Linked DNA regions of Homo sapiens: regions 1 and 2 are each linked to region 3. The links come from fine-mapping of genetic effects on plasma protein levels. A gene starts in region 3. Each other region holds a variant in brackets. All regions are shown on one strand. Distances are from middle to middle.

What was found. A credible set is the group of variants that fine-mapping cannot tell apart. PIP is the chance, under the fine-mapping model, that this variant and not a neighbour inherited with it causes the effect. The UK Biobank Pharma Proteomics Project read protein levels with antibody pairs (Olink). The fine-mapping took linkage between variants from a reference panel, not from the people measured, so its PIPs are less certain.
Region 1: its variant is the best candidate, but not a certain one, in a credible set for the plasma level of the ADAM12 protein (UK Biobank, PIP 0.62).
Region 2: its variant is the best candidate, but not a certain one, in a credible set for the plasma level of the ADAM12 protein (UK Biobank, PIP 0.77).

Annotation. Positions count from the first base shown.
Region 1 is chr10:126,346,278-126,357,118 of GRCh38, reverse strand. All of the region lies in intron 1 of ADAM12 (ADAM metallopeptidase domain 12), which reads left to right. Among named protein-coding and RNA genes, the nearest start is that of ADAM12, 37 kb to the left of the region's middle. The variant A/G (reference allele first, on the strand shown) is at 6,971.
Region 2 is chr10:126,082,294-126,093,134 of GRCh38, reverse strand. All of the region lies in intron 11 of ADAM12 (ADAM metallopeptidase domain 12), which reads left to right. Among named protein-coding and RNA genes, the nearest start is that of FANK1-AS1, 110 kb to the right of the region's middle. The variant T/G (reference allele first, on the strand shown) is at 4,077.
Region 3 is chr10:126,382,609-126,393,449 of GRCh38, reverse strand. ADAM12 (ADAM metallopeptidase domain 12) reads left to right here and starts at 4,973. Exons shown (of 23, transcript NM_001288973.2): 1 at 4,973-5,392. The coding sequence starts at 5,305.

The DNA of each region.
Region 1 (10,841 bases), 36 kb after region 3:
AACTTCTGTGCTTTCAGGACCTGGATGTTGGCATCTTTCCCCAGGTTAGGGAAGTTTTCAGCCATTATTTCTTTAAATGTATTATGTGGCCCCTTTTTCTCTTTCTTCTTCTGAAATTTGTATTATGCAAAAGTTAGGTCATTTGATGGTATTCCATAATTCCCATTGGCTTCCTTCATTTTTCTGTTTGTTCCTCTGATTGGATAATTTTAAATTATCTGCTTCAATTCTTTTGCATCTTGCTCAAGCCTGCTGTTGAAGCTTTCTATTGCATTTTTAAAGTTTAGCCATTGTATTCTTTATCTCTAGTGTTTCTATTTGTTTTTTGATTGTTTCTGTTTCTTCATCAAACTTTTATTCATGTATTGTTTTCCAAATTTTATTTGATTTTTAATCTGTAGTATCATATAGTTTACAGAATTTCTTTAAGAGGATTATTCTGAATTCTTTATCACTTTATAGATATCCATTTCTGTAGGGTTCATTTTTGCAGTTTTGCTAGTTTCTTTTGGTGTTGTCATGATTTCTGAATCTTTGTAATGCTATGTTCTTGCACTGGTTTTTGCGCATTTGGGGAGACAGTCACCTCTTCTGGATGTTACAGGTGTTCTTTGGCAGAAATACACCTTTACTATTTAGTCTAGCCTGTGATTCCGGATGGGCCAATTGGTAATGACCCCAGGCAGGCAAAGCTTGCTTTCCATTCTCTAGATGGCTGGGATGCTGCCTTTGCTTTGAGTTCTGGTAGAGCTAAGCTAGCTGGGCTCAGGTGTCAGGTGAGAGCACTAGCTGAACTCTGTAATTAGGCAGAACTACTGGCTGGTCATTGCAATTTCCTCTGATTGGGCTGGGCTACAGGGTGTATTCCTTCACCAGGTGGTACTTTTATTTGAATTCTTCAGTTGTACAGAGTTGCAGGAGGTTCCCTGGGGTTAGGTGGAGTCATTGCTCAGGAAGGATGGGATTATCTGGTGCTTCAGTAGAAATGTATGCTTGAGGTTTGCGTCTTTGCCTAACCAGGGCCTTAGGGTAGGCTTTGAGGTTAAGCTGAGTGCTGTTTGAAGTTTTGGGTGTTGCAGAACTAGCTCTTGCTCTTTACCAAAATGTGTAGTCGTGGGGAGCTCTCTCCCCAGGTGGAGCCTTCAAGTAGAGCCTAAGGCTGGGCCTGGAAGATGGCTGTTGGGATTCAAGCCAGGCACAACTTTTCACCACTTGGGAGTGACCATCTTGGCTTTGCAGGTGTGCTATGCTGTTTGCTGGTACCTCTCACTGGGGGCTGCCACTGGAAGATACACAGAGATATCACCAGTATCTGCTGTGGGCCCTGTCTCCTTGCTTTGTTTCTAACTGACTCCAGCTGGTCTCGCCATGCCGCTACCTCGAGCATTCTTTATGAAGTGAGACTGAGGTGGGCTTCCTGGGAAGCATCTCAGAATGCTAGAGAAGCTAGATGTCTGCTTCTGGTTCTCCCTGCCCACTGCAGAAACCATGGGCCCTGAGGCATCCTCTCTGTGTGGCACCATGCTGAATGAAAGGATGGAGGGAGAAGCAGTGTGGTCAAAGTGAGACCATTTCTCCTACCCTTCCAATGCAGACTTCATTCATTTCTGTAGTCTAGGCAGGTCTCTCAGGCTTATTCCCAAGTTTTGGGGTTTTGACCCACATGTTCCTGTCTGTAGATAATTGCTAGTTGAAATTTCTGTGGGTGATAGTAAAGCCTGGGGCCACCTGTTCCACTATTTTTGCCCACTTCTCTTTATTTACAATTTATCTTTCCCCTTGTTTAGACCTGTCGGAGATTTAGATATGTATTTGGCCTGTCAGAAGAATTTAGTCTTGGATTTATTAATCAACACTATTCCTTTTATTCATAGCTTTTAATTTAGTCATTTCTGGTTTTATTTCTTAACTCCTTTGTCTTTTTATTGTTGTGATTTTTTGGCCGAATGTTTAGTTCATCTATGTTCATATTTCTTGATAATAAAAGCAGTTAAAACTATACATTTTTTGTTAGTCGAGTTTTGGTTTCATTCCATATATTTTGATGTATAAATTCACTCAACACAATTATAAAAATTTTTTACCTTTCAACATTTTTTTCCTGTGGGGAATTGCTATTTGACAATTGACATAAGAACTCTTGTGGGTCAGATTTTCTGTGAACTATGAATTCCAAGATCAATGCAAGTTTTAATATAAATATGTGAAAAGCTCCCATCTCCCTATTTTGCCTCCCCTCCAACATAAAATGAGTACAGATTTAGAATTTCATTGGTTAAATATATCTTTGAGTATTCATTAAAAAAAAAACAAACTTTAGCAGTGGTTACTCAAAATCTTGCCATAGTCAGTTCTGCAGTATCCACTAAAAGACTTAGATTTTTATCAAAATTTCTTTCCCCCTAAAGTCTATGTGGTGGAGCTTTCTTTTAGAATCATCAACCAGTTTGTTCTTGGCATTAAACATTATCTTTTCTCATTAAAGCTCTAATTTTTTTAAAAAAAGCTAATGATGAAAATTTTAGTTATAATTTAAATGAAATTTGCATGTACAATTGTCAGTAAGGACTATGAAACATAAACAATTACATAATTTTTGAGATGCAGCAGATCCTAGAAACTCACTCAGTCCTGTGGTTGCCAACCTTTCTCCATCTCCCGCAGACGTTCTACTGCATGCCAGATACCATGTGCAGTAACTTCTGAATCCTCTCATCCCCCTACTTCCAGAACACAGGACTATGAGTTACTTGAAAGCTGAGGCTTGGTAGAGGGCTGGAGCCAATTGCGTTAAACTAACTAACATTATTGCAAAATATATTCTAGGGCTTTTACTCTAATAAAAATGACTCCTGGAACTGCAGTACTATATTCTTGGAACCCCAAGAAACCAGGTGACAACCCATAAATTTACCATCACTTTTCAGATGAGGAAGGCAAATCTGGAAGGCCAAATTACTTGTCCAAAGATAGACACCAAACCAGTAAAGGAGCAGGATTTGATGGAGGGAGGATGAAGTATCAATGAAAAAATAAGTCTAAGTAAAGAAATGCAAATATCTTTTTCTTTAAAAAAAAAAAAAAGCTTGTTAACATTATAAAAAACATTTCAAATATGGCATCTCAAGTTTGAATTGGTTAACTTCCTTTAGGGATTTGGAATTTTCTGTCAACATGATTCCCCTGGCCAGGATTAAGACATGGTCTTGTAGACTTGTAAAAGGGTATTATCCCTGGAAAATATGCTGTTCAAAATAAGGGCAGCTGGAAGCCTACAGATGACTGTTTGTGCCAGAGCAGTCAATTGATTACCGCAGGGAGCTTTCCCTTCTTTTTAAGGACTCTGGAGAGTTCATTATGAAATCTTTTGAAAGATACATGAGCAGGACCAGGCTAGACCTGGATTCCATTAGCTTTGTCTATTCACAAATAGTGGTTAGTATTAGAAGAGTCATAAATCTCTTATTTATTTTGCTATCAGAGACCTTCATAAAACTCAGCTCTTTAATAAACAGGTTGAGATACTCAGCAAACTAAATGGAAAAAATGATAAACTAATGTAAACACAGCATTTGCCTTGTTTATCATTGAGTGCCTGTCTGTGCTTGTTGCTTTCTGAACCTTGAATGCTGTTACTGCAGACCCTCCCTTTGTGCCTAGTAGCCTGTGTCCCTTGGGAAACCTCCTTCACCACTGTCCTCTCACTTCAGCCTTGGCTCCTTTCTCCAGATTGTGGAAGACATTCTCCCTGGGAGCTCCACCATCTTAGTATGACACTGTTGCTTTCCCCACTTGTACCGTAACATCTTTCAGATCTAGGCATGTGACCTTTGATTCCAACCTCAAGGACTTGGCCTAGCACATAGCTGGTGCTAAATAAAAGCTCCTGGTTACACAATGATCCATCCATGAGGTTGTGAGCTCATTGATATCAGTGTTCAAGTCTCCACTCATAGGGTGTTACAGCCATTTAAGTATAGGGAGTGATGGCAATTCCTTTTGAATCTGTGGGCTGCATTTGGTATGCAGGAGATGCTCTGATGTTCCACGAATGGGAGGAAGGATGTTCTGGAGCAGTGGAGAGAAGCCTGCTTTGATCACAGTGAGGATGCACCCACAGCAAGAGCAGCCTTTGTGCTTTGACTTTAGCTGGTGGTCAGAGATGGTTGTTTCAAAGGCTAGGGTCTCTGAGACTGCTGGTCTACCAAATGGTCTGCACTGAAACCATTCCCTGGGAGCTTGTTTTGAATGTACATTCTTATATCCCACCTTGAATCTGGATCACATCACTGCCATGGTGGTGACACCCTATTGTTTATTCCTGTTGTTTATGGCAAGGTCCCCAGCCTCCAAGGCTCACTTCCCACCCAGCCCTTCCCCTGCTCAGCAGAATGGGGTGAATAAAACCTACTGTGACATCTTTGTGCACTGGCGTGAGGTGACAGATGCAGGAAACACTTTGTAAACTGTCAAGCGCCTGGCAACTGAAAGACATCCGACACAAGACAGCCATTAAGTAATTACATGCATAGCAACGCTGACCAGCTGTGGTCCAAGCAGTTCATATAGTACCAAGTTTCCTAACTTGGTGTCATTTGAGAACTTACTTTCATGACTTTTTAATAAATGTATATCACCTGTGCCATACACAGGTTTGCTTTTCTTAGTTTATCTTAATTTTTCTTAATTTATCTTAAACTTTAAGTCAGTATACACATTTTGCTTAAATTTGTTTAAGAAGGAAGTTGTACTTCAATATTCTAAATAGGCCAGTATCACTTGACATAAATACTATAAAGATAAATTGAAGGAAAACAAAACAATGTTATTAAAATGCAGCCAGACAATAGTGTCTGTTGGTGTCCCTGAGCCCAAGACCTGTTCTCTTTGTGAAAAAGGGCAGAGAGCCAGTGGCTGGGAGGTTTTAGGCATGGAATACCAAATGGACTTTTTCCTAATTAGAGGGCTTGACGGGAAACTGAAAAGTGAATAATTTGTTCCCCCCTTGACCTTATGTTAAGTGTCAGCACCGCCGAGGACACCTCCATCAAGCCAGCTGGGTGTGTCTGGCCCTTTGAGGGGTGCTGTTGAGTGCTGGGTTCTGAGGCTTGAGGCCGGAGGTCTTCAGTGAAGTCCCTGAACAACTCAGTGAGTCTTTGTCTAAAGCAGAGGGGACGAGGCCGGAGTCCTATAGTGACCCGAGAGTACTTTCTCAGTCCACTCTTCCTGTGTGTGTCCAAAGGCCAGATGAGGGCTGAGTGCTGGAGTGGGGGGATTATAAATAACCCCTGAAGCCAACTAGAGTCTTTGGGCACTCAGCACTTCTCACTGGGGGTGGGGGTGCAGGGAGAGCAATGCACAGTTGAAGGCATTGTCTTGATGAGGAGGTTTGAGATTTGTTCCTGGATCCTGGATCCAAACCCATCAACCAGGGGGTGTTTTCATGCAGGTCACTGGAGGGCTTCTGGACCTCCCCCTTCTCTATCACATCTATTCAGCATGTTGATGTAGCATGTGGGAGGTCCAAGGTGCAGTGCTGGGGGATCCGAGGAGAGGAAGCGGCAGTCTCTGTCGCAAGGAGTCAGCTCCCCTCCAGTGTGGCCAGGTAGTAAGCACATGCCATGCATGGGCTCTGTGTCAGGCAGGGAAATCCAGCACCAGAGGGCCAGAGCAGGAGGGACCATTTCTTGTAGGAGGCTTCAGACAGGGATCCATTGTAGTGCAAGCATGCAGGATGGTGACCACCAGTGAGGCCAAGAACTGGCCTATCCAGTGGGAACCCTCTTGATTTGGATAGGGCTGGCAGAGGACAGAGCTCCCAGAAGCCAGTCACAACCAGGACACATCTGGTGAGGTCCGGACAGCTGCAGGAAAGCCGAGACTAAAGGGGGAAGTTGGGACAGAAGGGAAGGGCAGGGTGGGGTGGGGGAGCAGGGCACATGTTGTCTGGTGCCAGCTTTGGGCTGAACAGGTGGGGTCTGGGCCTCCGGGCTGAGGGCACTGCCCGTGGACACCTCTGCCACAGCCTAGCTTCGCTTGAAATCCTGGCCATGGCCTGCTTTCCACACCCTGCTTCATTTCACTATGTGACCGATATGGGTACACTGTGGTGGGGGAACATGGCCCAGACTGATGGAAGACCAGCATGAGCAAAGGTGCCATGCAGGAGAGCCTGGACAGGGGAAGGGGCAGGGCTCCGGGGGTCGGCAGCAGTTCAGGTCACAGGATACTCTGGATCTGAGGTACCCATGGCAAGGCAGAGCCCTGGATGTGAGCCTGAGCTCTGCCCACTGCCAGAGGCGTGAATTCTGGCCAGGTGCCCGGCCTCCAAGGCTCACTTCCCACTCACCCTATCCCCTGCTCAGTAGAATGGGATGAATCAAACTTCCTGCAGCATTCCTGTGCACCGATGTGAGGTGACACATGTGGGAAGCACTTTGTAATCTGTCAAGTGCCTGGCAACTGGGAGACATCCGACACAAGACTGCCACTGACAACAGACACAGCTGCTCACACATGCAGGTCACTGCGGAAAATGCTCCAAGAGATGGACAGAGTCAGGCTCTGGAGCAGGAACTTCCTAGAATGATGGAGTTGACAGGGCCAGGTGAGTCTAGTTGTGGTGGCCATGCCCAGGCAGCTGTCTCTGTCCCGGGGCTGAATTCCTCTCCCCTCTTCCTCCCTTTCTCAAAGTCAGCCTTGTAGAGAACTTGCTTCACTCGGGCTTGGCCGACTCTGTGTGTGGGTGTGTATTTTCAAGAGGAGAGTTTCTCTCCATGTGGCTCTGATTTATGCTGATACTGTCAAGTTGAAAAACACAAATTGCTTGATTCCACAGAAAATCAATTTGACAATTTCTTTGCTCCCCACCCAGCCCTTGACATGAACAGTAATCTTTAGGGCACACTGGAAAAGTTAGGAATTACAATGTGTGCCAGTGTGTGGATGCTGCTTTGTTTTAGTTGTTTCA[A/G]TTTTTTCCAGTTTCTTCTTGGGGACAGGGAGAGCATTGAAATATTTATAAGAATATCATTGGCCGGCCAGTGACAAGTACCCTCAACTCTCTCTTAGATGGAAGCTGTGTCCACGTGCAATCACAGAGTTGAAGGAAAGATGAAACAAAGGCTACTATGTGGCTTCTTGGCTCTAAAGACAAATATCTAGATTTCAATCATATGCATTTTCCATCTAGAAATCTGTCTTCTGGAGAAAACCCATACCTGAAGAGCAAGCCAGCATACCTGTGTGATTCTGCCCACGGAGAGTTCCATTATGTAATCTTTTTCTGCTTAGCAGAGATAAATGTAATAGTATTTGCATTGTTATAGATCTGATAGATCTGGTGTCGAAACAGTTTGCCTAGATGGAAGAGATATGCGGATTGTTGAGGCTGTAAGGGACGTTGAAAGTTCATCAAAATAGGAGTTGCTTCCTTTGATAATTTCATTCTCAATTGGACCTTTAGAGGGAAGTTTCCTCTTTGTATAAGGAATTATGCAAATGTTTATTTTATAGTGGATATATTTGGATTCCTGTCTCTTATTTTATAACAACTGCATACTAAAACAGGCACCTCTGGCACCAGCCCCCTCATAAACTTAGCTTTCTTTAACATGTTTTAAAAGCAAATAATTTTGGTATTGTGGTCTGCTGCATACATCATTTGTTGTTGAGCCAGGATATTATTTGAGAACTGCAAAGCTCTCTAGGTATTACCTCCCTATATAAACCATGTGTTAGAAAGATATAAATTCAGTTTTGAAATATTTGTTAGACTGCTTTTGGCTTTCAGTCCGTGCCAAACATGTGCTTTGGTGACAGATGGAGTCATGTGGGCCCCTGAATGAAACACTGCATTGTGTATAGACTTTGTCTTCCAGCAGTTGGGTTGCAGAAGCTGGGAGATAAAGAGGATCCAATTGCTATGAGGTGTGTTCTCCAGTGAGCATAGGATCCTTTTCCCCCTCAAATATGTCACTAGGTTATTTGGTCTCAAATTCTGTGCCATAGAAAATAGTGCTGTACACTCTGAATTTATCTAGAATAATTAAATGTAAAGCATTCTCATGTTAACTTCAAATTTTGAAACTAGAACATGTTTCCTAAGAATCTATTGAAACGTATTGGCTTTGCGGGCCTGTAAACCATTCAAGGAAGCATGGACCTAGGATTGCCAGATAAAACAGGACTCCCAGTTGAATCTGAATTTCAGATAAACAACGAATTTTTTCTTAGCGTAATTATATCCTCAGTATTGCATGGGACATATTTATCCTAAAGAATTATTCATTGTCTATCTGAAATTAGATTCAACTGGAAGTTCTATATTTTGATTTGCTAAATTTGATCATTCTACTTGGATCCCAATTTATGGTTCGCTCTCATAAACAGTGACTGTCAAAGAACATTCCTCAGTGATGAAGGCTCTGTGAGTTTGCAAGTCCACGTGGCACAGAGACAGAGGAAATCTCAGTTCAGTCATCCTGCAGAATAAAAAGAGTGTTCTGTTAGAACAAAGTGGACGTAGATCACATCTACTGCACTTCTGATTGGGCTCGGTTGAATACTTTTTTCTCCTCATATGCATCCGTTCTCTCTCATCTCCCCCTCTTGCATTTGTTCCCACATTGTATAGGCAGAGCACGGAGGTGAGGGCATAACTCGGAAAGGCATGCTTGGGCCCATTCTCTTTCCATATAAGAAGCTTCCTTTCCCTCCCCCATCCTCCCACGTGAATGCCCAGATCCTGCCCATTCAAAGCCTGATATCATTGGCATCCCTGTTGTGAAGACATCCTGGACCGCCTCAACTGAATCAGGTTTCTAGCCCAACTCCGATTGCTCTTAAAGGCACTATCCCTTTCCGTCTTCTTTACCAGACTCTGTGCTCCCAGTAGGCAGGATGCAGTCTAACTTAAGAAAACACCCAGGGAGGAGCCTCCAGGCTACTGACATTCAGAAGAGGTTTCTTTTTCTCTCTTCTCTCTGTCCGTAACTTCTAATTGAGCACTAAATGTACAGGTGCTAAGACAAAGGCTTTCCACAAATCCTCTCCTTTCTCAATTGCCCCAGGGGTTAAGCACCCTGTACTCCAAAGGTCCCACCTTTGGTGAAAAGCAGAGCTCACTGGAAGGTGTTGTTCTAGACTCCCATGGAAACCTGAAATGCTGTTGACTCTCAGCCTGTACCATTGGTACCCCATTTCTGAGCAGCAGCAGAGAATTCGTCACTGGATGTCTGACTCCCAGCCTCCACTCTCAGGGCAGGATTCAGGGTGACCCAGAAGTTTGTTTTAGAAATAAACCTGTTTAATATTCTTAACACATAAAGTTTCAAATAAATAAGAGAAAAACAGGCTAATTAAAAATTGGCAATAAATGTGAGCAAACAACCCCCAAATTAAGAAATAAAAATAACTGATGAAAATATGAAAAGGCTCAATTTCAGTGATAAGTAAATGCACATTGAAACAACAAAGAAATTTGTTTTCTTTATAAGTGGCCAAACATCATTTGTAGGGCTTTCTCTTTATAATGATTGGCTATTGACAAGGCAGGCCAACATTCAAATTCAGGAAATACAGAGAACGCCACAAAGATACTCCTCAAGAAGAGCAAATCCAAGACCCATAATTGTCAGATTCACCAAAGTTGAAATGAAGGAAAGAATGTTAAGGGCAGCCAGAGAGAAAGGTCGGGTTACCCACAAAGGGAAGCCCATCAGACTAACAGCTGATCTCTCAGCAGAAACTCTACAAGCCAGAAGGGAGTGGGGGCCGATATTCAACATTCTTAAAGAGAAGAATTTTCAACCCAGAATTTCATATCCAGCCAAACTAAGCTTCATAAGTGAAGGAGAAATAAAATCCTTTACAGACACGCAAATGCTGAGGGATTTTGTCACCACCAGCCTGCCCTAAAAGAGCTCCTGAAGGAAGCACTAAACATGGAAAGGAACAACCGGTATCAGCCACTGCAAAAACATGCCAAATTGTAAAGACCATTGAGGCTAGCAAGAAACTGCATCAACTAACGAGCAAAATAAGCAGCTATCATCATAATGACAGGATCAAATTCACACATAACAATATTAACCTTAAGTGTAAATGGGCTAACTGCTCCAATTAAAAGACACAAACTGGCAAATTGGATGAAGAGTCAAGACCCATCAGTGTGTTGTATTCAGGAGACCCATCTCATGTGCAGAGACACACATAGGCTCAAAATAAAGGGTTGGAGGAAGATCTACCAAGCAAATGGAAAACAAAGAAAGGCAGGGGTTGCAAACCTAGTCTCTGATAAAACAGACTTTAAACCAAGAAAGATCAAAAGAGACAAAGAAGGCCATTACATAATGGTAAAGGGATCAATTCAACAAGAAGAGCTAACTATCCTAAATATATATGCACCCAATACAGGAGCACCCAGATTCATAAAGCAAGTCCTTAGAGACCTACAAAGAGAATTAGACTTCCACACAATAATAATGGGAGACTTTAACACCCCACTGTCAACGTTAGACAGATCAACGAGACAGAAAGTTAAAAAGGATATCCAGGGATTGAACTCAGCTCTGCACCAAGTGGACCTAACAGACATCTACAGAACTCTCCACCCCAAACCAACAGAATATACATTCTTCTTGGCACCACATCGCACTTATTCCAAAATTGACCACATAGTTGGAAGTAAAGCACTCCTCAGCAAATGTAAAAGAACAGAAGTTATAACAAACTATCTCTCAGACCACAGTGCAATCAAACTAGAACTCAGGATTAAGAAACTCACTAAAAACCGCTCAGCTACATGGAAACTGAACAACCTGCTCCTGAATGGCTACTGGGTA
Region 2 (10,841 bases), 300 kb after region 3:
ACTGACTTTCATGGAACATTCCAGCCCAAGCCTGCTCTCTGGGTTTCCCAAAAGGAGACACTGGGGCAAGAGGCAAGTGCTCTGAGCAGCCCAGTGACTCATCTCTGTGAAGACTTGCTGGCCAGGGGACAAGCGTGGTGTGAGGGGATACCTGCTACTGCGGTTTAAAAGACCCAGTAGAGGGAGGAATTGTTAAAGAATGTGTCTGTGCTTTTTCAAGCAATAGCCTTGTGGGCCTCCTGGGAAATAGTTTGTAGGGCATTGAGTTGCCCTTGAAACAAGAACTGAGCAGAACCACACAGCTCATCAGGGGATTGTCCTTTCATGGGAGCCATCAGGAGGCATCTTCTTACAGCAAGTGACTGATTCCTCATGTTCATCGCCCCCATTTGGGCAGAGGCTTCAGGGGCATCTTTCTGTTTGTGGTTCCCTCTTAAGCATAATTCAAGGGAGTCACCAAGACTTTGTTGAGGAAGTTGCTTTGTGAGTGTGTAATGACAGAAACCAAGGATCTGTACACAAAGTCAAAGTACTAACCGATAGGAAATGAAATATTGCAAAACTCAAGATACTAACATGTGTGTCTCTCCAAAAGGGAGGCCACCCTAAAAAGTAATATGTTCCTAGTCACTAAAGGTGTCTGAGAGGAAGCACAGTAATTGTTTGCTGGACATTTGGGGCAAGGATTTCCTTCTTAGGGTATAAGGTTGGGCCAAGGGCCTATAGATGCCTTCTGTTTCCAACATTTCACAAGCCCTGATCGCTATGCTGGGCCACACGCTGGGTGACTTTCAGACAGTGAGTTTGGCAGGAGACTGATGTGCAACTGAGTGGCCTTCGTGTTTTCTCACTCTCAATGAACTCATAGCCATAGAAAATGCACTGTGTGTCTAATTTCCCTGATCATCAGATGGGCACAAATACATTAGCCTATGGGCCTCCAGAAATGGTTTCCCATGACTAAGAAGATCATATTGTTAATATTGTTAATGTTTTTTAATTATTGATAAACCAATGGAAGAGAGGAAAACCTAGATCAAGAACACTGGACTTGAAGAGATCTGGTTGTCCCAATTCTCACACCATTTTTTAAAATAATATAGGCAGTTTAGTAACCCCCTGGCTCTTACATTCCTCATCAATAAGATGAGTGAGTCAGTCTTCATCCACCCATCCAACCATCTATCCATCCACCCATCCACCCTTCCTTCCTCCTTTCTTTCCATCTGTCTCTCCACCCACTTGTTCACATATTAAACAAATATTTTTGACCCCTGTGCTCGTGGGGAGGAATGCACAGATGATGAAGACTCTACAGCTCTAAAAATTATATAATTCTGAAGGCACAATAGCAAGGCATATTTTCTGGCACTCTATATGGTTTTATCTAAATCCTTTCCAATTGGAAAGTCTTCATGGCAGTGCTGAAGAATGCAAGCCAGATCGCCCCAGAGATATTTGAACACCGTAGGTAGAAATGGTATTGTTAAGAGCTCGACAAATCATTTAAAAGGCTTTTTTTTCCCCCATTACCAGGGGTTTGCTAATAGCCTTTATTTGATTTATACCATATTAGCAATTTCTGAGTTTTCTCTTTTGCTGAGCTTGTGCTTTTGTATAAATCTTTTCTATTTGCTTCTCATTTATGATCCCACATTCCTGTCCAGAGAGTGGTGTTTTTAATTTTCTCAGATGGAAAGCAACTTCCTAAGCAAGTAGGTGAATTAATCACAAAAGCCCACAGTGAGGGGGAGGTCGAGCGGCTCAGTCAACCCTCAGTCATCCATCACCCGTGGTGGAGTTTTCCCGGCTGCTCCGGTATTATCTCAAAATGGTGGTTCTCTTACCTCATAGTGTCTCCGAGAGAGTGGGAGAATGGACTCAATGAGATCACATGTCTGTAAATTGTAAATCATTCCACAAAGGTAGTATATTATTACTTAGCTTACAGGGGTTTTGGAACTATCAAAAAGTTAAAGGCTTTTTTCAGAATTCCTACTCATCATTGCTGGAAAGACTCCCAGTGCCCTTAGCAGTCACTCAGCAGCATGTCCACAGTTTCCGTGTGATGGCTCACTTTAAACTGGCCCACATCCAAACACCAGCCAGCCTGTGTCTTCCTCCTCCCACCACTGATGGAGGCTTGGGGATGTCAGTTAAATTCAGTCTCAGCTCCAAAGGTGATTCAGAGATGAATCAGTAACTGCTTTAATGATATTAACATCTCAGAATCAAAAAGAACCAAGTATTGTAGATGGCTTAAAGGAGAAAAGTATATCCCTTCATATACCTTGTTTATTCTTTATCAAAACATTCCAGAATCCTAACTCTGAAAACATTAACCAATTGCTGTCACTGACAAATGGGACCTGAGGCCTGTAAATACAAGGATAGAGTCCTATTTCAACTTAAGACTTGTGTGACTTCAGTTGCACATTGCAGGGATGGTTGGAGGGGGTTCCTTATGGATTGTATCATTAATTACTGCAAGGCTTTAAGTGTGTGTAAGAGTGTGTGTTTTATGTCTCTAAACATTTAAGACCTGTCCTGGAAATGACTCTTTGGCAAAAGCAGTATCTGGGGATTCATGTGGGAGTTTAACTCAGTTGAGTTTATCCATTAATGAGCTTGGAGCCCTTGGTCTTAGGGAGGTGAGGGCTACGTATGCTGCATTTATAGGAGTAAGAAAATTGTGAATGACTTGAACACTCATAGCAAAGAATATTTAGCGTAATAGTAAATGTCACTTCCTAGAGTAGGAAAAAAGGCAATATTAACATTCAAAAAATGACTCTTACAGATTCCTTTTTTTTTTTTTTTTTGCAGAAAGTTTCTGTTAAATGAGAGTTGGAGGAATAGGGCCATCTCCTCGGGTGGGGTAGGTGAATCTGCAAGTCATATTCACCGAGCCCCTGCCACTGTTACACACTGATAGGTGTTAGGGACACAGCTGTGAACAGGACAAGCCTGTTTCTTGCCCTCTTGGAACTGGTGTTCTAGTGGTGAAAAGAGTTGAAAAATGGAAAATTTAAAACTTGCAGTTTGGGCCAGGTGTGGTGGTTCACACCTGTAATCTCAGCACTTTGGGAGGCCAAGGCAGGAGGATTGCTTGAGGCCAGGAGTTCAAGACCAGCATGGGCAACATAGCAAGACCCTGTCTCTATTTTTAAAATAAAAAAATAAAAGTAATAAATTGCAGGTTGGAAGGAGTGCTGTGAAGGAAGCAAAGGAAGAGGACAAAGAGAGGAAACATGGGGTGAGGGAGCCCACTTTAAGTGGGGGTTTGGGGGAGGCCAAAAGGAAGACAGGGATGGAGAGCCTGCAAAGCATGGAAGGAAGGGAGTTCAGGTGCAGGGGACCATGGGCCTGTGGGCGCTGTGGGGACACCTTGCTGCCAGGAGCCTTGGGGCTGTGGGGGGCTGGAGGGAAGTGATGCTGGGTAGAAATGGAGGAACCAGAGCCAGCAAAGCCCAGTTGGCCAGAGCAGGAACGTGGATTCTTATCTGCAGAGCAGCGGGACATCATTGAAGCTTCTCAGGCAAGATAGGAATATGATCTGATTTATCTTTTAAGGTTTCCTCATTTTTAAGAAGACCATGCAGCCTCTGAGATATTGTAGTTTGCCAAGTTAAGGGGTTTTCTGTCTGTACAAAAAAGAAGAGGGAGGCTTCCTTTAGAAGAACAAGTAATAATAGTGTGTGAATTCTAGTTTAGTTCTGGTGTAATTCATAGGCATTTGGAAACTGTGAAGAGGAAGGATCCTTCACCAGCACACTCGGTGCTCATCACGCCACGCTCCACACTCACCTCTCCAGCCTTGTACACTTGATGTAAAATATTTCTTTTGGTTTGAGATTTCTTTTTCCTTTTCCTATAGTGAGCATCCTTTAGGGATTCTGTCAGAGAGCCACCAAGGAGCACATTCACATTTTCTTCATGTGTATCTGAAAAGAATTGTTGCCACAGTTGTCACACGGATGCTGAAATCAGGAGTTTGGGCCTGTCTGGGTTTTGCTGGGTCTATACTGGCAAATGGCTTCAACTGACGAGTGTGTCCCCAGCTGCCAACTGGGAGT[T/G]GGGGCGGGCAGCGTGTTCGTGTTGTGCACTGAGGATAATGTGGGATGAGAAAATAAGCAAATGAGGGTTACCCCCTGCTCTCCTGGGGTGCAAATCATTCACATTAAGCTGAGGTCAGACCTTCTGCAATCTACACCCAGATCAAATGACCACGTTTAAGGAGAATGTGTTGCCATCCTACTTCCCCGCAAGCATGTATAACTGGCCCATTCGATTACATTTAATTCCATTCAGGACACATTCATGGCACACCTGCCTGGACACGGAACACAAACAGATGTGTCCCCAGGTCTAGGTGGCCTCCACCCAGGTCAGCCTTCTCTCTCTCTTTTTGTTTTTGTTTTTTGAGATGTAGTCTCTCCCTGTCACCCAGGCTGGAGTGTGCAGTGACACAGTCTCGGCTTACTGCAACCTCTGTCTCCCAGGTTCAAGCAATCCTCCCACCTCAGCCTCCCGAGTAGCTGGGATTACAGGCACACACCACCATGCCCAGCTAATTTTTTTTTTTTTGGTATATTTAATAGAGATGGGGTTTCATCATGTTGGACAGGCTGGTCTTGAACTCCTGACCTCAAGTGATCCGCCTGCCTCAGCCTCCCGTAGTGCTAGGAATGCAGGTGTAAGTGACCATGCACAGCCTCGGCCTTCTCTAATGACATCAGAGAAGACAGCAGCCCTGCCCCTGACTCAGGACAAGCTTGCTACAGGAAATGAGGTCAACAGACGCGCAGCTGGCCACCAGGCAGAGCAAAGCCACTCATTTACTCCACTAGTATTTACTGTGTACCCTCTAGAGGCCAGATCCTGGGGAGCAGTTTCGGAGCAGGCACAGAAACACAAGGCAGGATCCTTGACTTCAGGGACCTCACTGCAGGGTACCTCATCAAATCTGCTTACACAGTCCGGGTATCAAGCACCATCTAGAAGTGATTTCAGTGTGGGCCTCTAAAAGACAGAGAGAAAAATCTATAACCATAACATCATTTCACATCTTTTAAAAAGCGACCAATAATTTATTGCAAACAGGGAGCAAAGGTTAGAAGAGGCAGCAGGCAGAAAAGATATCCTGGAATAGAGTCCAGTCTAAACCGATCTCGGAAGAATTAAATACAGGCTGGGCAGACCGCTCCCTGAAAATTCCTACCTCATACTGTGGGAAAACTGGATTTCTCTTGGAAGAGATTTCTGCCTGAAAAGGTGTTTTAAGAGGGTAAAATGAACTGCAATTTTCAGTGAAAAAAATCCCCCAAGGGCTTTGGAAGTGGTAGGAATTGATAGAAATTCAATGTAGCGGGAAAGTCCACACTCTGTAGAACTTGCTTTCCTGAAAATCAGTGGACAATACATATCGTTAGAATTCTCCCTCGAACTTTGGGGTGCTGTTGGAGATTATGAAATACATTTGTCATGCTGGAATTTTACCAAGATGGAATTGAAGGGAATTATTTTTCCATCTTAACTCTTCATTTGAGAGTGATAATTTTTTTCTCAATGAAAAGTTTAAGAAAATCTTCATTTCCTTCCTCAAAGTGTTAGGTGAAAAAATGGAAATCTTTATCCAGAGAGAGAGAAAAAAGGAGGAACAGCTACAGAATGAGGAACTCTGGTAAGATGAAAACACTACTAGTTAGAATCAATTTAATTACTCAGCCAGAGTAATGGAGTCAGCTGTACCCCGACATTATCACAGGGAAAAATGAACTGGCAGGAGGGATTCTTGAAAACAGTTCAAGAAGGGCGCATCAATATGCAGCCTGTTCTTGTTTCTTCTCCATGTAATTAGATATTGCTCACTGGAAAATGAAAGAATTTGTGTGCAATTCCATTAGAATATGAAAAGCTGCTGCCCAAGTTAGAATTGTCCTCCCCGTTAAGCTGTACACAAAATAGAGGTCAAGCTCGGGAGGCTGATTCTGTGTGGCCACTGATCCTTGAATATCCAGTTTAGGGGATATTGACCCTGAAGGACTGCATTCATGGTGTCCTGTTTCATCGATGAACTTTTTAAATTTAATTTAATTTTTTTGAGCTGAGCCTCGCTCTGTCACCTAGGCTGGAATACAGTGGCACGATCTTGGCTCACTGCAACCTCCACCTCCCCAGTTCAAGCAATTCTCCTGCCTCAGCCTCCCGAGTTGCTGGGATTACAGGTGCACACTACCAAACCCAGCTAATTTTTGTATTTTAGTAGAGACAGGGTTTCACCATGTTGGCCAGGCTGGTCTGGAACTCCTGACCTCAAGTGATCTGTGAGCCTCGGCTTCCCAAAGTGCTGGGATACAGGTGTGAGCCACGCACCTGGCCCATGGATGAACTTAGTGAGATGGTCATGACTATACCTATTTTATTTTATATATATATATATATATATATATATTTTTTTTTTTTTTTTTTTTTTTTTTTTTTGAGGCAGAGTCCATTGGGGCCATCTCGGCTCACTGCAACCTCTGCATCCCAGGTTCAAATGATTCTTGTTCCTCAGCCTCCCAAGTAGCTGGGATTACAGGCGTGCACCACCACACCTGGCTGATTCTTTGTATTTTTAGTGGAGATGGGGTTTTACCATGTTGGCCAGGCTGGTCTCAAACTGCTGGCCTCGAGTGATCCACCTGCCTTGGCCTCCTAAAGTGCTGGGATTACAGGTGTGAGCCACCGCACCTGGCCAACTATACCCATATTACTGGAGCTCAGAGTGTTAAATGAACTGCTTGCATTTTTCCAGACCGACCTAAGTAGAAGCCCCAGGACATAAAGTCAAGCGGCTTTTTCCCAGTGTGTTTGACACATGGAAGTGGCCGTGAACACATCTGGGCTTTATGAGAGAACTAAAGCTGCCTCAGTACAGAGCCATGTCCCTGTGCAACCTCTGGGAGGTGGGAGGTAGCCCCATTTTTAAGCCATTTAATTCTGCAAACCTCCTTCAATTTATGTTCCAACAGCAGAGAATGCTTTCCTGTCACTGGCTCGTTAACCCAGCATTTTATTTGTTGTACAGCATGTGTGAAAACATTTCAGCTGAAATCCTGCCAATCCTGCAATCCCCCTCCCACACACTTACCCCCATGGCTTCCTCCTCTCCCCAGGCACAGAGGCCACAGTGTAGGGTAAAGGATTATTTCTAGACTTCTCTACAACAGACAATATCCAAAAGGACTCATTTTCAGCTCCACAAGGTCAGGAATTTGTGTTTTGTTTATTGCTGAATCCCCAGCACCTAGAACAGTGCCTGACACATAGTAGAGCTCAATAAATACTTCTTGACTGAAAGGATCCATGAGCGGGTGGCTGGATGATGGATGCATGGATGGGAGGAAGGAAGGATAGATAAATAATAGGTAGATGGGTCAGTGGATGAATGGATAATGGGTGGGTGGAATGATGGATGGATGGACGGATGGACAGACAGACAAAGGATGGATGGAAAGAAGGAAAGATGGGTAGATGGATAAATCAATGATAGGTAGGTGGATAGGTGGATGAATGGATAATGGGTAGGTGGAAATGGATAATGGATAGATAGAAATGGACAGATAATGGATAGATAGATGGTACAATGGACAGATGGATAGACGTTGGCTGGGTGGGCGGATGGAGAGAGCGATGATGAGTACAGCACAATTAGATAAGTGCAGAGTGAGGTTTTCTCTTCCTTATCTGTGTAATGGCAAAATCTCTGGGGAGAACGCTCTGAGGCCACTGTCTTTTGTACTAAATCTAGCAATTGCAGCAGCAGCATTTTCATTTTTTGTTTATTCCACATCATTCTACAATGGATTTACAATAGTTTGCAATGATACACACAATACAATAAATAGAAGAAAATAAAAACAAAATAGAGCAGAGAAAACCCAGATAAATAGGAGGCAGAGTCCACTGCTTTTCTGTACATAATCCATGGAGACCTGGGTGAGGGAAACAATTTGCTTTCAAACAGTAGAGTCTTTCCAGCAGGGCCTTCCCCTGAAAGTCTTTGCTTAATTTAGCTAAAGTGGGAAGAGAGAGATCAAAAATATCAAATCTAAAAGCAGTTGTGAGCATAAGACTTTGTAGAACCATTCTCCAGTTTACAAAGATCTTTGGCATCTCCTTTCATTGTCACAGCCCTAAAAATAAAGAACAGGTACAATCGTCTCCATTTTACAGGTGAGCACACTGAGGCTCAGGAAGGCCAGAGGGCCCACAGGTGGTCAGGGTCATTCTGGATCTCAGCCTGCAGCCTCAGGCTCCTGATCCATTCTTTGGCCTTTCACTGGGTACCTGTGAGCCTTTGGCTCGCAGGCTTGGGGATGGGGAGGGTTGAGAGGGACAGCTCTTTCCCATTCTTGAGTTCCACATTGCCCTGGTGGTAACTTCAGTGTCAGTTGCTCAGTGGGGCAAGAACTGGGCACATGTAGACTTCAGCCCTGGTGGCAGGCTTGTAGATATCTACCGTGACTGCTTTTTCTATCATGTTTGATTAGAAGCCTCTATCCTGTTACAGGCTTGCTAAGTCAGCAGAAAGAACTAGCGTATTCTGTGCAGGTCTGTCTACTGGGCTAGGAAGAAAGGGTGGTACCATTTCAGACATGCCCACTGTCCATTATTAACCACTGCATCTGTCCATGTCTACGAGAGTCTGCTCCTCCAACAACCCCCACACAAATTCAGCAGTCATTTCTTGCAATGAAGCTGAGTAGCTCGTCTGATACATGGCCTCTGATGGGCTGAGGTCCTTTTAATATGGACACTGTGTCCCCCGCCCCTGGGTTCTTGGTCTTTCAGGACTTGGTGCAGGAAGAAATAGCCATCGTAGCTCAGAAGTGAAAAGTCCACTTTCTGGTAACGTCCAGAAGCTTCCTGTACATGTCTCAACTGACCAGAGCTCAGTTGGTGACTTTATTAAAAATTCTGGGAAATTATATTTGCACTTAAATTGGTTTCAGGGAGGAGGAGCAGAGGTCAAAGTTCACAAGTTAAGACCATGAATTATAATGTGCTGCAGATGGCTGCATTCTGGGGCCCAGGTGTTTGCTATTAACAATGGAAATGGCCTACTAAGGATCTTTCTGGTCATTTGCTCCTGGCCTGGTGGTTTTCTTAGCTTTCTGTGGTCCGTCTGGTTGGCCCACTGGCTCAGCGTCCAGTTATAAGGCAGTCACTTTCTGTTTCTGGAGTGGACGTGAGGATGGATTGCCCCATTAGCTTCAGCCTCGGTTCTGTTCTATCGTTTGAGCCTGTGTGGTCAGAGCTGTGTCCCTGTGCACCGCTGGGCAGGCAGAGTGGGCTGACTCAGGCCCAGCTCCCTCTCCCATCACACCATGAGGAGGAGTCACGAGGCTTTTGAGGCGGGGCGCCTATTTCCCCTGCCTGCAGCTCATTAGGGTCTCAACAGGCTTGCAGCCCTCCTCAGGTGTGCACGATCTGGCCCAGGTATCACCTCAGGCTAGCTGGATGAATCCCAAGACTGGGCCTTTGTCTTCTGTTACACCAAAGACCTTTAGGGAAGTCCTCTAAGGTACACCTGGAAGGAAGTGTAGAACCTTGGGTGTTCCTTCTGTTTACGTCTGGCTCCAGGGAGTCCCGAGGCATCGGAGCAGCTGCCTCTCCCAACCCATGGATACTACTGCTGCTGGCATAGCCATTTGTGCTGGGTCATGCCTGAGGCTGCCCAGAGGCCCTGCCCTGGGGCAGCTCCTGATAGCCCTCGAGACGGTGTGGTTGAGTGGGAAGAACACAGGCCTTCTAGTCAGATCTGTGCTTTCAGTCTCCACGCAGGAACTGCAGGGTCCCGGCAAGGAACCCAAGCTGCCTGCACTCAGCTTCCTCATCTCTAAAATAGGAGTCATAATTGGCTCCCAGAGGTGTCAGTGAGAGAATGTCTGCCAGGCTTCTGGTCCCCAGCAGGGTTTCACTAAACAAATGGTGGCTCCTGGCCAGCCCCGCTCCAGGCAGCATGGAGTAAAAAGCCCCTAAAATGAGATGACCTCCTTGCATCCACAGCAGGCCTGCCACGGCACTGAACATGAGGCCGGTCACCTGCGAGTACAAATGCCACCGCCCTGGCCTACCAGGCGTGCTACTTGGTTGCACATAAATTCTGTGTGTGGTGATTGAAAGTTTTTATTGTTGGGCATAACTGGGGAAAGACCTGAAGATTTTCCTGAAGATGGCCCTAGAATTTTTGGTCAGCAGCTTGTCCAAGCAATGTCCATTCCCCACACTGTGGTCCCCTGCCCCCTCATACTGTAAGAGGACCTCGCTCTCACTTGGGAAGAGAAGAGGGAATTCATGTTGGGCTTATGCTTCTCAAGGGACTAGGAATATGTAGAACTGGCTGTGAACTAAGAATGGCTAAGTTGTTTTTGGAAAAGCTCAGCAAGCTAGTTATGGAATGAATGATAAAAGTTGTGGCCGGCATGGTGGCTCACGCCTGTAATCCCAGCACTTTGGGAGGCCGAGGTGGGTGGATCACCCGAGGTCAGGAGTTTGAGACCAGCCTGGCCAACATGGCAAAACCCCATCTCTAATAAAAATACAAAAAAATTAGCCAGGCATGGTGGTGTGCACCTGTAATCCCAGCTACTCAGGAAGCTGAGGCAGGAGAATCGCTTGAACCCGGGAGGCGGAAGTTACGGTGAGCCGAGATCGCACCACTGAACTCCAACCTGGGCTACAGAGCGAAACTCCACATAAAAAAAAAAAAAAAAAAAAAAAACAGTCATTAGATTGTCTTCTCCAGAGAATGGATCCCACAATTTGTGGCCACGTCTCACTCTGAGCTCAGT
Region 3 (10,841 bases):
GACTGGAAAACCATATGCCATATGTTCTTACTTATAAGTAGGAGCTAAGCTATGAGTGTGCAAAGGCACACAGAGTGGTATAATGGTCTATGGAGACTCAGAAGGGGAAGGATGGGAGGGGCATCAGGGATAACATATACTACTTGGGTCCCAGGTGCACTAAAATCTCAGAATTCACCACCATATAATTCATCCATGTAACCAAAAACCACTTGTACCACAAAAGTTATTGAAATAAAAAAAAAAGAGTCACTAAGCCCAGCCCACATGAAAAGGGAAGATGATTAAGCCCTCTTTTTTTTTTTTTTTTTTTTGAGACGTAGTCTCGCTCTGTTGCCCAGACTGGAGCTGGAGTGCAGTGGCACGATCTCGGCTCACTGCAAGCTCCGCCTCCCGGGTTCACACCATTCTCCTACCTCAACCTCCCGAGTAGCTGGGACTACAGACGCCCGCCACCACCCCCGGCTAATTTTTTGTATTTTTAGTAGAGACGGGGTTTCACCGTGTTGGCCAGGATGGTCTCGATCTCCTAACCTCGCGATCCGCCCACCTCGACCTCCCAAAGTGCTGGGATTACAGGCGTGAGCCACCGCACCCGGCCAGCCCTATTTCTTAAATGAAGTATCCTCAAATGTTTGGTCATTCTTGTCATAGTTCATGTTTGTTTTTGAGATTCCCCTTTTCCTTTCGCTGTGTGCTGGCTTTGCACTCAGCCTGCCCCCGCTGATGGCGGGAGAGATAAGCACCTGGTCTAGGAGGCTGTCTCAGCAGCTGCTGCTGCTCCAGGAGGTGTCTGTTTCTCTTAGTACTGTCAGTCACTTGGGGTACGTAAAATGGAATCTGGGGGTGTGTAGGGAGGGGCATAATAAGTTTCCCATCACAGTACAGTCATGAGTCACCAAATGACATTTTGGTCAATCACGTGGTACGCACTTGAGCACTTGTAAGGATGCTCCCATAAAATTATAATGGAGCTTCTCTATCCGGGTGTACCATTTTTTAAAATCTTTTCCACTGTATTTTTACTGTACCTTTCTGCCTTTTTGCTGTACCATTCCCTACAGTATTCAGTGGAGTCATGTGCCATACAGGTTCGTAGCCTAGGAGCAACAGGTTATACCATAAAACCTAGATGTGTAGTAGGCGGTACCACCTAGATGTGTGAGTACACTCTGTGATGTTCACACAGCGACAAAACTGCCTAATGATGCATTTCTTAGAATGTATCTTTGTTAAGTGAAGTATGACTGTCACTTGGTTGGAGAAGTTGACTGGTCAGTGGGTAGGTGACATAGATGAATATAGATGGGGTGACCTTTCCTGTCTCTTGTGACACAGCGCATCCCCGAGTTCCTTGTCCCCAGCCCCAGGAGCATTCTTTCTTTGGCGTTTAGTGCTACTTAAGTGCTAATTCTGTGCAATAATGAAAGCATCAGAGACAAGAGGGTTTAATCTGCCCAGAAGAGGTTCACTGGGGGCAGGTTTCTGAGGAGGTGAAGGCATGGATTCTTGAAGTGAGAGATCTAGGAAAAGAAAAATGGACTACATGTTATTATAATACGCCGAGAGGAGCAGGAGTTTTCATCTCTCCAAGAGATAGAATAAAAATGATTTCCAAGAATCTTAATCTTGGGGTGATCACATTTGTTTACGTTTGGAGTAAGCCTTGGGAACTGTGCTTGGAGAGAGGAAAGCTGTTCTGCAAGCCTGTGTCTGAAGTTCTGTCAATAGGTCACTCTGCAAGGAGGCCGGCTCTTCACTTACTGCAGAAATTAGCAGTGGCTGCCTGTAAATTCCTGGCTTAGGAAAGTTTGTCTCCGTTTTTCATCTGCTTGTACTCAGAGCAGATTGAGCTTACATGAGCTTGGGTAAGAAATAAGTGCCCTGTTCGTTGTGAATGCCCAGGCTGTTAAACGAAAATAGCACACAGGAAACAGTATTGCAAAGGTCAATTCTTCCAGAAAGGAAGGGACAACCAGCCATCTATCTGAAATTTTCGTGTGTAGATCCTGGCCTCTGACCCCACACCATTACCTAACAATCCAGTATTGAATGTGATGTCGGCTTCCATTTCCTGTGAATGAGGAGGCAGAATTTCCATCCAAAGACAGACCATCTGCCAGACGCAGGATTTGCTCTTTGCCTTAGCTGGCTGTTATTGATGTCTATGAAGGCTTTGTGGAGACAGTGTCAGCCCAGGCCGCTTGCTTCACAGAGATGGTGAATTACAGGGTTGAAATCCAGAGCTTGCAGCCAGGATTTTATTTTTCTTCATTTTTCCTCTGCAATGGCTGTTTTCTTTCGTTCAGTCAGAAACAAATCAAGGACAGTCTTGGGGCACATTTAGTTCTTTGGAGGAAGCTTTGCAACATCCAGGTTTAAAAGAAATTGGACTTTTACAGTCAACATTAACAATTGAATATGAAAGAGCGAAAATAAATTGATCATTAAGAGAAAATGTATACAAGGCCCCCAGCCCAGTGCACAGCACATGTTAGGTCCATTGTGAATAAACCATTTAACCAGTCAGAAGGATCCGAGAGGCCAGTGGCTGGGCTCATCTGCAAGCAAATCTGGCCCTTTGAGCTGGAAGAAAACAATTTTTAATTCTCTTGCGTCGATGTGTCTGAAGTTCTATGGGCCACAAGTATCAGGATCACCTAAGTACTTGCTAAAACTTGTCCTTCCCAGACCTTTCTAATGAGAATCTCCAGTGCAAACGCCAGAGGAATTGAATTCTTAACAGACATCCCAGGGATCAGGTGGGTTGGGAGACATTGCATTATTTCACCTGGTGCTCACAACCACCTGGGAGGTTTGTATTTTACCTTCACTTAACAGCTGCTAAAACTGAAGGTTGGAACTCAGCCTTAAAGAAACAGGCTTTATCTTTAACAGATCTGAGGTTGGGCTCTGACCTACTTCACTGTGTGGTGGTGGGAAAGCTACATCTCTATGCTGCAGTTTCCTCATCTGTATATTCAGGACTTAAAAAATGAAATAATGCAGGTGAAAGACGTTAGCACAATACTCCGATTATACGAGGTATGTAATGAATTATGAAGTAGTAAATAGTCTGTTTTCGTGCTGCTGATAAAGACATACACAAGACTGGGTAAAATTATACAGGAAAAACGTTTAATGGACCTACATTTCCACATGGCTAGGGCAGAAGACATGAAGGGGCAAGTCATGTCTTACATGGATGGTAGCAGGCAGAAAGTGAGAGAGAGCTTGTGGAGGGGAACTCCTCTTTTTAAAACCATCAGATCTTTTGAGACTTATCCACTACCATGAGAACAGCACAGGAAAGACCTGCCCCCATGATTCAATTACCTCCCACCAGGTCCCTCCCACAACACATGGGAATTCAAGATGAGATTTGGGTGGGGACACAGCCAAACCATATCAGTAAACAAGCCTAATCATTATTAACTAGGTTAAGTAACTAGCTCACACTGTCCAATAATGATGATTTATCAGTTTGATCAGAAAGAAAAGTCTTTGAAGGCAAGAGGCTTTCTCGTTTAGTTTCCCAAGTTCTAACATAGGGTTGCTCATGTAGATTGACTGAATGAATGAACAAAAGAAGTACACTGCAACGCTGGTTGGTAGTACGGTTAGATATGACACAGGGCTTGAACCAGGCCTGGTTTCCAGATCTGGTACTGAGATATGGCAGCATTGGGAAGGGGGCTGGAGAGCCTGTGCTTCCCACTAAGGTTTTTTAAAAAGAAAGTCCTGCACCTTGTTAGGAGGATCGACCTGGGTTTTGGGAACACTGCAAAACCTGCCGTGGGAGGGAACTCCTGAGAAAACTCCTCTGCAGTGGGAAGAGATGGTATGGAAGGCAGCTTCCTCAAATGCTGGATAACCGCCTCCTAGGAGTGGGTGCTCCGTCAGGAATCGGTGCGAGGTCGCAGGACCAGGATGGAATTTCTGCAGGTGGTCCTAGGTCTGAGCAGCACAGTAGAATCACCTGAGGCTTTGAAAACTATTGAGCTCCACGCATTGTGGGAAACTGAGTTAACTGGTGTCTGGGGCTGGCAATGTCTTTAACTCTTACTATTCTAATAAGTCCCCAAGGTTGGGAATCATGGTAACCCGCAGGGTGGGCATCAGCCATCCTCCATAGCTCCAGCCATTTCTGTCTGTGCGGGCCCCCTCGCTGCTGCTTTTCATGGTCTCCCTGAGGGCCGAGCGAGGCTGAAGAGGTGGGGTCAGCCCGGAACAAGGATGAGAAGGCAAGGCGCACCATTCTTTCATTGGTGTTTCTCCAAACACCCTGGGCTCCCCTGGCCTCACAGCCTGGAGAGTCTCATTCTGAAAGCGTAGGAGGGCGCCCGGGAATCTTTTTAACAAGCCAACCCAGGTGCTTCTTACAATCAGGAAAGTTTGGGGAACGTCACTGTACACCCTTTTCTGGGTCCAGGTCATGGAATGGAAACGTGAGCCAATCTATCAACGTAAAACCTAACACTGTTGATCAAAAGTAACGCCCAGGTGTCTTGTGCCTGCGAGTCCAAGCTTGTTTCTCGGGCGAGAGATGCCCCTTTGGGCGCTTAGGGCCGGGCGGGGTCGCGCGCCGGGCTGTGGGCCGCGGTGGAGACCTGACCCGCACTCCGAGGGTTCCCAGAGAGCCGGGGAGCGAGTAGCAGAGTCATCGTTTCCAGCTTCAGCCTGAAAAGCTGGACCGTGCCGCCGCATGTGCGCTTGGCAGCCGGGCGCCCCGGGCCCTGCGGCCACATCATCCTGGGGCGGGGACGTGTGCGCTCCGGGCGCCCGGACGCCACTGAGCCACGTCTGAGCCGCCCACCCTCGGGGGTGAGCGAGCCGCGGCTCGGGGCGGGACCCTGGCGGGGGGACCCGAGCGGTCTCTAGGACCCGCGGGACGCCGCCAACTGGCGGGGGTGCGGGGGAGACAATAATTTGTTCCGCGGTAATAAGAACGGTGACTGCTGGCCGTGGATCCATTTCACAGGCCTGCCTTCTCTCACTAACGCTCTTCCTAGTCCCCGGGCCAACTCGGACAGTTTGCTCATTTATTGCAACGGTCAAGGCTGGCTTGTGCCAGAACGGCGCGCGCGCGCGCACGCACGCACACACACGGGGGGAAACTTTTTTAAAAATGAAAGGCTAGAAGAGCTCAGCGGCGGCGCGGGCGCTGCGCGAGGGCTCCGGAGCTGACTCGCCGAGGCAGGAAATCCCTCCGGTCGCGACGCCCGGCCCCGGCTCGGCGCCCGCGTGGGATGGTGCAGCGCTCGCCGCCGGGCCCGAGAGCTGCTGCACTGAAGGCCGGCGACGATGGCAGCGCGCCCGCTGCCCGTGTCCCCCGCCCGCGCCCTCCTGCTCGCCCTGGCCGGTGCTCTGCTCGCGCCCTGCGAGGCCCGAGGTAAGTCGCCGAACTAGGGCGGCTCGCTGCCCGCCCCGCCGAGGGCACCGCACGCTGCGCCTGGGCGCGCCGAGGTCCAGGGCTGCCCCGAGGGGCGACGCGCCCCGGCGCATCTCCGGAGCCCCGGGGCTTGCGCTTCCAGCGCGGCGAGACCGACCCCCCCCCCCCAGGTGCCAATTCCTTGGGGAAGGGCGACACTTGGCCCGCAGCCCCACAGGAGCCAGTACCTGCCCCGGAGGGCACAGCCTCGGGACCGCTCCCCCGTCCTCACCCTCTTGGGTGACATTTGCAGATGTCTCTGTATCTTGACATTTACACGTGTCACTCGGGACGATGCGTGTCGGGTCCTCTTGCTGGCCCTATCCCGCAGTGAATATCCCCACCCCAGGCTCCGGGCCAGCCCTTCACCAGGTTTCCTTTCCAGCCCCGCCTCCCCCGCTAACACACTTAGGGGGGCGCGCAGCGGCCCCGCAGGTGAGGCAGCCCCCTCCTCCGCAGGTGTGCCTGCTGCTCTCCACAGCAGGCTCTATTTTCATAAACTGACTCTCTTACCTACTTCTTTAGTTTCCTCTCTGCCCCTCTTCCTGGCTTCCAGGTCACTCCCTAGCTGTCAGTCGCAGGCAAACTTTAGCGGAATTCTCCCTCCTTCCTCCACTCAGTTTCTCCGCCGTAAATAATCGCCCCCATCAACTTGGTGCACAGCGAGAACTTACTTAGTTTAACGTACTTAGTTTTACAGACTTAGGTTTTCCCGAGTTGTAGCCCCTTAAAATCGGGCACCTGTGGCTCCCGTTTGCACAGTGAGGACTCACCCAGCAGGTGCCTTTTTAAAAATCCGGCAACTTCCCCGGGTCTCCGCCGCCGCCGCCTTCTTTCTGCCGCCCGGGGCGCTGTCGGTCCACCGATGAACGACTTCCCTTGGCCGCAAGCTCTCAAGTTCTGTGATTCTATATAACAGGCATTTATTTTTCAACAACTGGCCTAAATCACGAACCGTTACCACTTTATGATACGTTTTATTTTGCGATTGCCACTGCTGCCCTCCGCCCCCACCGCGTCTACTGTAATGTGGCTAAAACCCAGTTCTTGTTAAAAGCCACACTGCGAAGACCAATTCGGGGATAAATGATTAAATACAAAGATTGCACAAAGCAATGAGAAAGTCAAGAAAGAATCCTGCTGAGGGTTTAAAGAACTCTACGACCTGTAGTGAATTGTGCTTTGAAAGACTTTTAAACAAATTGGTCCTTTTGAATGTTTATTAAGAAAGAACTTTTTAAAAAACGGAAAGTGTCTCAAAGTGTGCCTGACATGGTCTTTAACTTGGCACGTGCTTTGTACACATAAAGAGAAGTCTACTGAGCAGGGACAAATTTTTTTTTTGGAAGAAAATGTTTATTAAATCCAGCTAATAATGGGAAATTATTTCTTGTGTGTGTGGGCGGGGGAGGACTTTTACTATTTTATGAGTTCAGCTTTGGTAGAGAGAGTGTTTCCTTAAGACAGATATGACCCAAAATAGAAAACCAGGGAGGCCTAAGCACTTTGAATGGGTTACCTATTGTGATATATTCCAGGATTCACTGCTTGTTTACCCTTAGATTCTCAGTATCAAGTCTTCAATCAATCAGTGCCCCAAATCATACCATTGAGGCCGTATAAAACGCCAAACATATAATGAAACATTTCTTTGCATTGGCAAGAGAAAAGGAGGAATTACTACCTGTTGAGTCTGAGCATATTCTGAGTTTCTCCCTAGCCTTGTCTGTACCCTGAGCCCTGGCACAGTTGCCTACTTGGTACTTTCTGGGGCAACTCGGCCTAACAAGTCCAAAACAGAACCCTAGATCCCAGACTCTCTAGTTGCAAATCATTCCCTCCCCAGCCTTCCTGAACCCAGTAACAACCTCCTCTGCCTTCTCCACATGCCTTGTGCTGACATGCAGGAAGTCATCCCTGTGTCCCTCTTTTTACTCCGTAAGCCACCAACCTCCTAAGTATATTCCCACCTACCCACTTCCTTACATCCCGAAGTGTGCCTTTCCCAGTCCAGGCCACATTATAGGAAAAATCTCTTCTGCAGAAGCCTCTTATCCCTCTTACCCAACGGGCCTACTGGCTTTTCACCTTATCCCTGCATGGTATATTTTCCTCCACAATAGAGCCAAAGTTATTATTTTCAAACATGAGTTAGAGCATTCAAGTTTCCTGTCTAAAACTCCCCAGTGGCTCTCTAGCACCCTTAGGAAAGAAAATCCAAACCTCAGCATGACCTAATTCCTGTTTTCCTTTCTGATCTCCTTTCTTACCATTCTCCCTTTGCTCACCCTACTCCAGACACACTGCCTTCTCTTCTTTTCAACTACCCAATATAGTAGTGCCATCATTAAAAAAAAATTCAATGTTTGCACTAAGAAGACTTTGCAAATACTTTTCACTGTTTTGCCGTGCAGTGTTTTATGGCATTTCATCCCTCTTGTAACTTTTTGCTTTTCCTAGAGTTAATGATTGCCTTGTCTTGATTTTTGTTTGCTTTATTTTCTGTGCACCAAGCTGTGATATTGTGATATAATAAGAAATATGTCTCTGCCCCTGGTTCCTGGCACAGAACTCCTAAAATCCTTGGAATCTCTGGGGTATTAAGAGTGTCTTTTGTATGCTAATGAGCTTGTTAAGGCATGATTAGAGTTGGGACTTTTAGTGCCACCTCCCTTGCAACCTCCAGGGAGGGGAGACGGATTGAAGGTTGACTTGATCGCCAATGGTGTAATTAATCATGGCTGTGTAATTAGGCCTCCATAAACCCCCCAAAGGACAAGGTTTGTAGAATTTCCAGATTGCTGAGCAAATCAAAGTTCCTGGAGGGTGGCGTATCTAGAGAGGACACAGAAGCTCTGTATCCCTTTCCACATTCTCTGCCCTTTGCATCTCTTCCAACTGTTTTTCATCTGTGTCCCTAATTACATCCTTCATTAATATAATAAACTGGTAAATATAAGCAAGTGTTTTCTGTGGTTCTGTGAGCTTACCTAGCAAATTAACTGAACCTGAGAAGGGGGTTGTGGACCCCCAACTTATAGCTAGTTGGTCAGAAGTATAGGTGTGACAACCTACTACTTGTGATTGGCATCTGACATTGGGGGGAAGTCTTGTGGGACTGAGCCCTTAACCTGTGTGATCTGATGCTTTCTCCAGGTAGATAGAGTCAGAATAGAGTTAAATTGTAGGACTCCCAGTTGATCTCTACTGAAGAACTGGTGGTTGGTGGGGAGAAACTCCCACACATTTGGGTGACCAGAGGTGAAACATTCGGTACTGAGAGTGAGAGTAGGGAGAATACTTGGTTTTTGGTTTTTCCCATCCCTTACGCAACCTCTATTTTACTTCCACACTTTCTGGAAGAACTATCAACCTCCTTTCAATATGATCCAACACATCAGGTAGTCTAGCCATGATTTTTTTTTTCCTGATGTCATCTTTCCTAGAGCCCCTCATCCTCCTGTTCCAATGTGACTCACGGGTTACTTTTTAGGCATACATTACAGCTGTTATCTCAGGACTACCCTTATTACCAAGACGCTAAGAATTCCTCTTGCATCCTTCCTGTGTTGAATCATCTGTATTCTGAGCACTGTAAATTTTTCTTAGTTCATTCCTCATTTCTGTGGAGCACGTTTTCCAGTAACTTCCTGAGGATGGGTGTTGGGAAGATACAACTTTTTTTGATAACTTGTGAATATGTCAGGGATGCTTTCAGCTGCAAATAACAAAAAAACATGACAGCAGCAATTTTTACAAGCTCGTATTCTTTACAAGCAGTTGCAAAGTAAGTATTTTGGTGGCTGGTGTAACTGGTGTGTCAGGTCACTGATGTGATCGGGGACCCAAGCACTTTCTTTTATTTCTATCTGCGATACGTAGATGTTGACTTTTGCCTTTATGCTTACTTCCTCATGGTCTCATGATAGCTGCTGTACCTCTTGGCATCATATCTGCATTCCAGGCAGTAATACAGCAGAAAGGACAAAAGGCAGAACCAGTCAAATCTATTTTCATCAGGAAAATAATATTTCCATAAGCGTTTGTAGTAGATTTTGTCTTAGATATCATTGGCTAGACTGTGACCCAGGGCCCCTGCTAGCTTGTACAGAATACTAGAAAAGTAAATATTTTTAACTATGTACATTGCTGCTTCAAACAAAACAGTTCTGTGAGTAAAAACAAAGGTTGGAATGTGTCTCTGGCATACCTTGTATAAAATATATAGATAAACACACATTCATTCATTCCACCCTTGATTGCTAGTTTGTTTAGGTATAAAATTCCAAGAAAGAAATCATATTTTCTCAGTATTTTATAAGGCATTTCTTCAATGTCTCTATGGCCATTACTGCTTGAGAAGTTGATGGTATTCTGCTTGTCAAACCTTTAAATGTAGTCTTTTTTTCTTTTTGGAAGTGATTATCTTTTTTCGTTGTCACTAGTATTTTTGCGTTTTATGATTATGTGCTTTAGCAATGCTCTTATCAGTAATTGTTAGGAACTCAGTGGGCCCCTTCAGTTTGAATATTCATGTTGTCAAGTTTTAGTATACTTTCTTATATTCGTTCTTCAATTATTTCTTCCTCACTGTTTTTACCACAGCTTTTCTGAAACTGCTATTAGCTGAATGTCCCAGCCTCCTGAAAACATCCTTTAATTTTCTTATCTATTTTTCATCCCTTTACATTTTTGTTCTACTTTCTGGGACAGTTATTTAATTTCATTTCCCAACCCTTCTATTTAAATTTTTTGGCTGGGCACGGTAGCTCATGTCTGTAATTCCAGCACTTTGAGAGGCTGAGGCAGGAGGATTGCTTGAGCCCAGGAGTTCAAGACCAGCCTGGGTAATATAGTGAGCCACACCCCCCAACCCCACCACATCTCAACAAAAAATTTTTAAAAAATTAACTGGGCAAGGTGTCACACACCTTTAGTTCCAGCTACTCAGGATGCTGAGGTGGGAGGATCACTTGAGTCCAGGAGGTCAAGGCTGCAGGGAACCATGATCATGCCGTGCTACTCCAGCCTCGGTGACAGAATGAGACCCTGTATCAAAATAAATAAATAATTTTAAATTTTATCCTACCACATTTAATTTCCAAGAGGTTTCTTGTGCAATGAATGTTCTTTTATTCTTATTATAGTGTCCTCTTCTTTTTTGTAATGGATGTAAAATTGCTATTAACTCTGAATGTGTTAGTCATTACTTGTTAAACATTTTTTGTTCACCTCTTTCTCATTGTTAGCTTTGAGATTCTCTTTCCCCCCCATTTGTTTAATATCTGTCTGACTTTCTTCAAATGTCTGATTTTTGGCTCTCTGTTGATATTTAATAACGGGGCATTAAAGAGCTGATTAGAAGTTCTGTGTACTTCCACAGATGGATTTACTGACTGATGAACATTCA